Linked DNA regions of Homo sapiens: region 1 is reported to be linked to region 2. Evidence: microRNA targets listed by miRTarBase, many of them from high-throughput screens and not tested one by one. Region 2 holds a microRNA gene; the other region holds the end of a gene's coding sequence.

The links. Region 2 holds the annotated microRNA hsa-miR-4684-5p (CUCUCUACUGACUUGCAACAUA, at 2,798-2,819, shown strand). A microRNA usually pairs through its seed, bases 2 to 8, with sites in the 3' UTR of a target mRNA and lowers its output. Matches are read on the target gene's strand: a 7mer-m8 pairs with bases 2 to 8, a 7mer-A1 pairs with bases 2 to 7 and ends in A, and an 8mer does both.
Region 1: miRTarBase lists C1GALT1 as a target of hsa-miR-4684-5p. Seed matches in the 3' UTR shown: 7mer-m8 at 2,167-2,173.

The regions. Positions count from the first base shown.
Region 1 is chr7:7,243,193-7,247,727 of GRCh38, forward strand. It overlaps C1GALT1 (core 1 synthase, glycoprotein-N-acetylgalactosamine 3-beta-galactosyltransferase 1), which reads left to right. Exons shown (of 4, transcript NM_020156.5): 4 at 332-4,535. The coding sequence ends at 535. Among named protein-coding and RNA genes, the nearest start is that of LINC03016, 9.7 kb to the right of the region's middle.
Region 2 is chr1:22,716,733-22,720,732 of GRCh38, forward strand. It overlaps MIR4684 (microRNA 4684), which reads left to right and starts at 2,785; the gene lies at 2,785-2,866. All of the region lies in intron 1 of EPHB2 (EPH receptor B2), which reads left to right. RefSeq lists an enhancer at 432-1,121.

The DNA.
Region 1 (4,535 bases), not on the chromosome of region 2:
AGGAGATTTCTCCTTGTATAGCTGCTCCTTTGATTTGAAGAAATCTCAGTAATTTTATCCGCTAAAGAGTGTGAGAGAATATTGTTTCATTTAAAAATACTTTCCACAGTTTCACTTGGTTTCACCAATTTCAATTGGTTTTAAATCATTAGGATGTCTAAGTAAACTATTGATTTCTTCCACAGGTCTAGTACATTAGGTTCCTCTGCTTTACCTTGCCATCTTTAATGTTTGTATTCTTTTAAAATTAGCTGGTCCTTTATAAGTATGTAAATATTGTAGCTAGCAATGTGCTGTTTATTAACAATACCTGTTTCCACTACTTTTTTAGGGTCCTGGTTGCTGCTCTGATCTTGCAGTTTCTTTTCACTATGTTGATTCTACAACCATGTATGAGTTAGAATACCTCGTTTATCATCTTCGTCCATATGGTTATTTATACAGATATCAACCTACCTTACCTGAACGTATACTAAAGGAAATTAGTCAAGCAAACAAAAATGAAGATACAAAAGTGAAGTTAGGAAATCCTTGAAAGAAAATCATGAATGAACAAAGGTAATATGTCTAGCACTGCACTGAAAAAGGACTTCTGCATTTCTGACATAGAACACTGGAATCCCAGTGAGGAATTCTAAGTGAACATTCCTTATAGAAACCTTTCACATGAATGACTATAAACTGAAGCTTTAAATGAGCTGTGAAGTGTGTTAAAATGTGTTTTGATACAGTAATATATAAATATGTCTATATATATGAGGAACTTGTGTTTTTTAAATGGTGGCCAGGTAGAGGAACTAGAAAAGAGATTTTGTTGCCTGTTTTCTGACCATCTGTGTTATTGTCACTGAGAAACTAAAATAGTAAATTTACTAAAACTACACTGCACCATGTTAGTAATAAACAGATCTGCCTTAAAGAAAAGAAAATTTTAGAAAGAAATATTGTTGCTCAGTGTTGTTAATATAGCTCAAGAATTGAGTTTATATTTGCAGTATGCTATAAATGATACCCCCCTACCACACCCACACACACAGTTTTTGTCTAATGAAAATGTTGCTGTGATTATTTATAATTGGTAGTATTTCTTCCAGAAGAAGCTAAAATAAGACTGGCACTTACCCTGAAGTGCATTAATAAAACCACACTTTAAAATTATCATGGGCCTTGACTATATTATATACTTGATTCTAATTAGTCATCTTTTACGCAATCTCTGTTGTCTCTTTTCTAAATGTGTTTAGCCACTCTTGAATACCATTCTCCACTATTAACATTAATTTACTCAAACCGTTCATAGCATTCTGTAAACATGTATTTTACATATTTGTTCCCAAATTTGCCCATTGTTCATTATGGGTAACTAATAATAAATTTAATGCTGTTTCAGGATGCTTTTCTTATAACAGTGCCACTCTCAGGAATTACTAAGTGACATTTTAAATTGATATTTTAAACTCTTTCCAACTACATAGTTATGGTTTATTTCATTCTCATCCTGTTGGGATGAGAACTTGTTTGTGCCTTTCATAACTTGTTTAAAGCAGAGTTTTAAAATTAGTTTATAGGATCTGAGGTGGCTATTAGTTACAGTGGCAAGATTATTTAGAAAGCAAGATTTTGATGAGAATTAAAAACAATAGAAAATGTAGAGTGCTTAAACAAAAATGTTATATTTTGAAAGAGTAGATACTTAATTTATAAATAACAGTCTGAAGGTTGGTGCTATTTTGGGATAATTGTTTTGCTAATGGATAATTCTAACAATGCAGAATACCTAGTCAAGACTGTCATCAAAAACATTCACAAATGTTTCATTCTATTTTTAGTGACTCTGTTTAAAGAGTTTCTGAAAGGAAAGAAATTTTTTATTTTTATTATCTTTAGCAGTACTGAGTGTCATAGCAGAATATTTTACAGACTTTCTATGAGATTATTTTTATGGTACAAAGTATTTACATTTCCCTCATGTTTATCATTATGCCAATTTTACATGGCAGTCATGCCACTGACTCTGCTATTTAGCTAAGTAATTTCTTTTTTCGGAGACTGTCTCACTCTGTCTCCCAGGCTGGACTGCAGTGGTGCGATTCTCCTGCCTCAGCCTCCCGAGTAGCGGGGATTACAGGCACGCGCTGCCACGCCCCGCCAGTTTTCATATTTTTAGTAGAGACAGGGTTTTGCCGTGTTGGCCAGGCTGGTCTTGAACTCCTGACCTCAGGTGATCCACCCACCTTGGCATCCCAAAGTGCTGGGATTACGAGCGTGAGTCACAGCACCCGGCTAAGTAATTTCTATTTATTGTGCCAAAACATGTCAAAATCATGACCTCTTTGAATGGTATATTTGAGAGGATGTTCATTTCATTGGTTAACCATGGACTACTCTGTCCACGTAGTGAAAACATGCACCAGTTTTTACCTATTATCATGGTAGTATCATCTGCCAAAATTTCAAGGCATTCATTTTATTCTTTGAACAACTCTTCACCATGGTGTGGACATGAATTTTCATATGTGTTACTTGACTAGAAGTATAAATGGTTTACTATAGATATCCAAAAACCTTGAGATTTGCTCATAGGAAATGAATATTGTGATGAATCCTGGGCTCTAGAGTCAGACTTGCTTGGGTTTAAATTCTTGCTCTAACACTTACTGTTTTTGTAACCTTGAGCAATTTTAATCTCTCTGTGTCTCAATTTCCTCATCTTTTAATTAGGGATGATAATACTACCTACCTCACAGGATTTTTATGAGGATTAAATAAATGTAAGGTTTTTAGAACATTGATAGGGAGCAATAAATAGAAGATTGTATTATTATTCTGTTACCTTGGAGTGTAAGTACTGCATTTAAGTGAATGAAAAATTTGCTTTGACCAGATACTGAAGGAAATAAGTAATAGCTAGTATTTATCCAATGCCAACTGTATGCTAGGTACTGTGCTTAGATAATCTGTGTATAATAGTGTTAATCCTCAAAATTTGGGTGTTATACCCCTATTATAGATAAGGAAACTGAGGCTCAGAGACAAAGTAACTTTGTCACTGTCACAAAGCTAGTAAGTAACAGAGGTAGGATTTATATTCAAAACCCTGTGTGTTCATTGGAACCGTATCAGGCTTGGGGCTATTCATGTAGCATTATTTCCATTTTTATGTATATGATATATGACGTCTGATGCATTGGCCAGTAATAGTCAAATTAACCCAGCCAAATTGTCACAGTGATTCTTAAACTGTGGTTCTCACACTTGCCCAGGATGTTGTTAAATGCAGATCTGAAGACCCCAATCTCAGAAATTCAAATTTAAGCATGGGGCCCAAGAGTATGCATTCTTACCAGATACCTTGGGCAGTGACTGTCAAAAGTCTGGTCCCAACAAACAGCATTAACGTCACCTGGGAACTTGTTGGAAATGCAGCCTCTCTCGGGGCCTCATCTCAGATCAGATCTACTAAATCAGATACTCTAGGGGCAGGGGCAGGGGCAGGGGCTAGCAGTTGTGTTTAAGCAAACTCTGCAGGTGTCTTTCTTATCCTAGTTTGAGAACCAATACCCAACAACCTACGTGATTTTGGTGCAAGTAGTGTTTGAAACACACTGAAGATTACTGCCCAATTACTAAGACATTTTTCAAAAAGCATGTTTTAAATCAGTGTAGTCCAGGATCACACTATATTAAATATAAAGATAACTTAAAGGATCATTGGATCATTCATTTTGGCCAAATTTTTAGCTTCTCCAAAGTGACTAACATCAGGGCCTACAATAAAATCTGTAATTCTCCAAGTTTAGTAATTTTATATTGAGGCAGGAAGGGCTCATTAAGTACTAATAAGTACATAATTTATTAAAAACATACATAAGTGTCATCAAAAAGGTCCACAATTGTTAGTAAAAAAAATTAAATTGAAGTAGTAAATGCTGTTTTATAACATACATTTTTCTGCTAATTCATTCTGTTTTGTGTGACCTAATAAAGCAAAAGAAAAATAAAAAAGCAATTCTCCAAGTACTTCATAGAGCACATAAAACCAGATTTCATGATGATGATGTATTCACTATCTTTTAGATTAAGATCTTTGTTATTTGGTAAATGATTTCAGTATGGTTTTAAAACATAAGGCTTTTGATGTCTTATGTTCTCTAATAATGGTATGCTTGTATTTTCTAGTGGGAAGTTCATAGATAAAGCAGATTTTTGTCCCAGTTTGCTTTCAAATATAAATTTCAGAGGGCTTTTTCTTACTGTAATGAGGTATGAAAATAAATCATTGATCAGCTCTTAATATTTTTTGAATACAGAATTGGATTTGAGCAGTAAATTTGCTAACTGGTTATTTTCACAATTTTCTTGAATATTAATTTTTCACTTCTTTGAGACTGTCAAACTATAGTTACTACCAGGTTGATGCACTGTACTTGAAAGAATCCCTTGATTAAATTACATCTAGCATTTTATTTGCCATTTCAATTTTCAGTTCATTAGACTATAATTCTTTGACAGTTTCTGCCTGGTGTTTATTGCCC
Region 2 (4,000 bases):
TGGAGACTGGACCTCTGCACATAGAAAGGCCCCTAACAGGAAGGGGCAGATGGAGCCTGCTGGTGACAGGATGCCTGGGCTGGGCAAGGCAGGGGACCCATGCTCCCACTGAGGGTGGCGGAGATGCAGAGCACGGTGGGCCTCCTGACGGGAGGATCTTCCACACCTCCGACCAAGGACCCGTCTCCTGACCTGGCACCTGCATGCCTGACTTAGCTGGAGATCTGGGAGATGGGGAACAAGGTTGGGGAGTCTGTATTTTTAACATACTCTCCAGGTCTTTCCATTAGGCAGGCAAATTTGCCCCCCAGCGGCCTATGATAAAACACAGGACTCCTGGGAAAGAGGAAGAGAAACCTCAGCAGGAAACTGGAAAAGACTGAAATGAAGTGAAATCAATCAGAGTTAGCGCCCACCAGCCCTGGCTGCCGCTGGCTCGTGCATAAAAAGAGGGTTAGCTGGGGGAAGGCAGGGAAGGAAAGAATGTTTGCACAGCTCCCAGGGGTGGGGCAGCAGGCCAGGCAGTTGTTGATTGTGGCAGCACCTGGAGGCTCCCTGATTGGGATCAGCTCAGGCCTTCTGATAAGGCTGCCTTGAAAGCATTTTAGGGCCTTTTAAAGCAGCTGCCTTCCGGAGGGTGCAGGAGGGGGACACCTGTCTCCCCAGTACCCCCGTGTCATCTGGGGGCTTGCCTAGGACACCCTCACTAGGTGAGCTTCCTGGAGCCATCTGCCCCCCTGCTGCAGCCCCTGTGGGGTGGGAGTGTCCTCAGAAGAGGGGACCTTGCCTGCTGTGTGGCCTTGACCAAGTGATCCACTCTCTGAGCCTCAGCTTCCTCATCTGGAAACTGGAGAATACCGCGCATGTGTCAGAGGCTCATGGCGAGGATTCAGTGAGATGCTGTGTACCATGACTGGCAGAACTGCCTGGCACTCAGCTGTGTCCATTCTTTATTAGTTTCCGTAACCATTAAATGTCAGCAGCACCCTCGTGCCCCTGGCCAGAATGACTTGTCCCTTTCTCTGAAGTCCTACAGAGGCTTTGCTTAGCCCTGATCACTTTCTCTCCTGTTCTATAAACAGCAGAGCCTGGGGGTTACAGGAAATGTGTGTGGAGTCAGACTGCTCCGTACTGTGTGTCCTCTGGCTTGTGTTTTCACCTCTCTGAGCCTTGGTTTCCTCATCTTTCAAATGGGGGTAATCATTGTTCCTAGCTCTTGAGATGGTTGTGAGCAATGGATGTGTTAATCTGAGGAAGACTAAGCTGAGTGTGTGCCTCAGGTGTGCTAAGCTTGCAATAAATGTGAACGGTTGCTATCCTTGCTTTCTACCAATGGGAAGCTCAATTCACAGTAGGGGAACAGGGGGCCAGTGTACCAGGTTTTTCATCTCCAGCTCTCCCCCACCCACTGTGTTCTGAGCCTTACAGGGCAAGGGTCTGACTGGCTTGCCAAGTAGCTGAGAGGCCCCTCCAGCCTGCCCACTCAGGGTACCATCCAGGTTTTCTCAAAGGCCCCCTCCCCACTCCAATTCAGCCTCCCTAATCTGGGAAAGGGGTAGACTCCTTCATGGCTGTACCCTCCTTCTTTGCCCAGTGCCTGCCAGGCACCACCTTCCCTGCCATGATCATGGGAATGGCTGTCAATTCTTTTTTTTTTTTTTTTTTTTTTTGAGACAGAGTATTGCTCTTGTTGCCCAGGCTGGACTGCAGTGGTGCAATCTCGGCTCACTGCAACCTCTGCCTCCCGGGTTCAAGAGATTTTCCTGCCTCAGCCTCCCTGAGTAGCTGGGATTACAGATGCCTGCCACCATGCCCGGCTAATTTTTTGTATATTTTAGTAGAGATGGGGTTTCACTATGTTGGTCAGGCTGGTCTCGAACTCTGACCTCAGGCGATCCACCTGCCTCGGCCTCCCAAAGTGCTGGGATTACAGGTGTGAGCCACCGCGCCCAGCAGCTGTCAATTCTTGTGCCAGACATTGTACTAACAGCATTATGTGTGTTGCCTTGTGCAGTTGCCCCAAGAGCCCCACAGGTCGTTGTATTATTGTGCCCATTTTACAGATGAGAAAACCAAAGCTCTGAGAGGAGTGACTGGCCCAAGGACACCTAGGGAGTGGTGAGGCAGCGATTGAAACCCAAGTCTGGTGACTCCAGAGCTCATGCTCTTCTCCACTTCTAGAATGTGCCTCCCTGCTCAGAGGAAAGGCTTGGCTCTGATGAGGGTCTCTAAGGCAGCTGTCCAGCTTCCAGCTCCATCAACATCCTGAGATAATGCAATGGGAGGGTTCTACAACTCACAAACCTGCCATAAAAATGCAATCTCTGTGATAATGGTCAGAATAATGTTGTTCTAACTTAGACAAATCGGGTGTTAACTCATTATGTTGTAAGGGGCGCCTCCACAGAGAATGGAGACTACGAAACAGTCACAGGGCCATTTGCAGCTTGTACTTCCAAATACAATAGCTCATCAGGCCTTCACAGCCATCCTGAAAGGGGCAGGAGCCACGGGGCCCACTTTAGAGATGAGGAAACTGAGGTCTGGGAGATAATATGACTCGCCCAAAGCCAGCAGCGGGACCAAGCTTGAAGCCCAGGGCCAATCTTAATAGCTCATCTATCCAGTTCAAATTCTTAGCCAACATTTGAAAATCAAGAGATTTTACAGAAAAGTCCTGTTTCTGGCGTTTCTGAAAAGTCAGACAATCTGGTTTCACAGGGCCCACATTCCCACATGGCCACAGTTGGCTGGAGTGACTGCCTCTTAAGACAGAATGTGTGAGCACCAGGGGTACCTCTCTACTGACTTGCAACATACATTTGTCTTGGTGTGTTGCAAGTCGGTGGAGACGTACCCTTGGTGCTCAACCCCTGTAAGGGCTTGAGTTTGCCTCCTGGATCTGCCCCTGTTACCCTGTGTGACCTGGAGTCAATTGCATGGCTTCCCGAGCCTCAGCTCTCTCTTCTATAAAATGACAGGGGTGAGACTCAGTGATTTTGGAGGCCTCTTCCAGCTCCAGGATTCAGTGCCCATTGCCAGGGTTCAGGGGTTCAGGCAAGGGAAGGGAGAGCTACAAAAAGTACAGGACTCCACTCCTGAAAAGCATATCACTTATCTTTAGCAAGCCACCACAAAACCTACTGGCTTAAAACAATAATGATTTCTTAGTTGTCCTGATTCAGTGGATTGGCTGGGCTCAGCTGGGTGCTTATTCTGTTCCCCGGGTTGTCAGTTGGGATCACTCAGGAGGCTGCACTCAGCTAGGTTGGGCTGGAAATTCCATCGTGGCTTCACATACATCTTTGAGGCCCTCATAGAGAAGGCTGGAAGGCTGGTCCCCCTACGCTCCTCGCTATCTCCCATCCTTTGCTAGTCTAGACTGCGCCTCTATCCATGGCAATTAGCTCCCAAGATGGTGAAATGGAAACTGCAAGGCTTCTTAAGGGCTGGGCTCTAATGTCACAAAGTGTCACCCCTGCAGCCTTCTGTGGTGGTCAAAGCCAGTCACAACACCAGCTCAGATTCATCCCAGGCTTCCTCATCAGGTTCAAGGAAAAGGAAAATATACTGGGCTTGATTTTTTTGTTTTATCCTTGAAGAGAAGTCCCATTTCTTGCTCAGCTGTTCAGCATGGAAAATTTAATGGTGGGTTATCCAGCGTCCCACTCAACATGTCCTGACCCACTGAATCAGGTGACACTCAGAGTTCAGTGCCCGCCCCTGCACCCTGTTGTTGTCCATGTTTCTTGGGCCAACCTGTGGTCCAAACTTGAATCTAGACGCCCCCTTACTGGGAGGAGTGGCTTCGTGTTTAGTAGGGGGAGGAATTGTTGGCAGCCATATTTGGAGACAGCCTCTCACAGGTAGTTTATCGTCCAGTCCAGGGATGGCGGTGGGGAGGCAACAGGAAGCCAGAAATCTCATTCCCCCCCCCCCCCGCCCCAGCACTTACCCCCGAATTGTCTTCAGTGTTATCTGCCTCTTCTGAGAAGGCAGG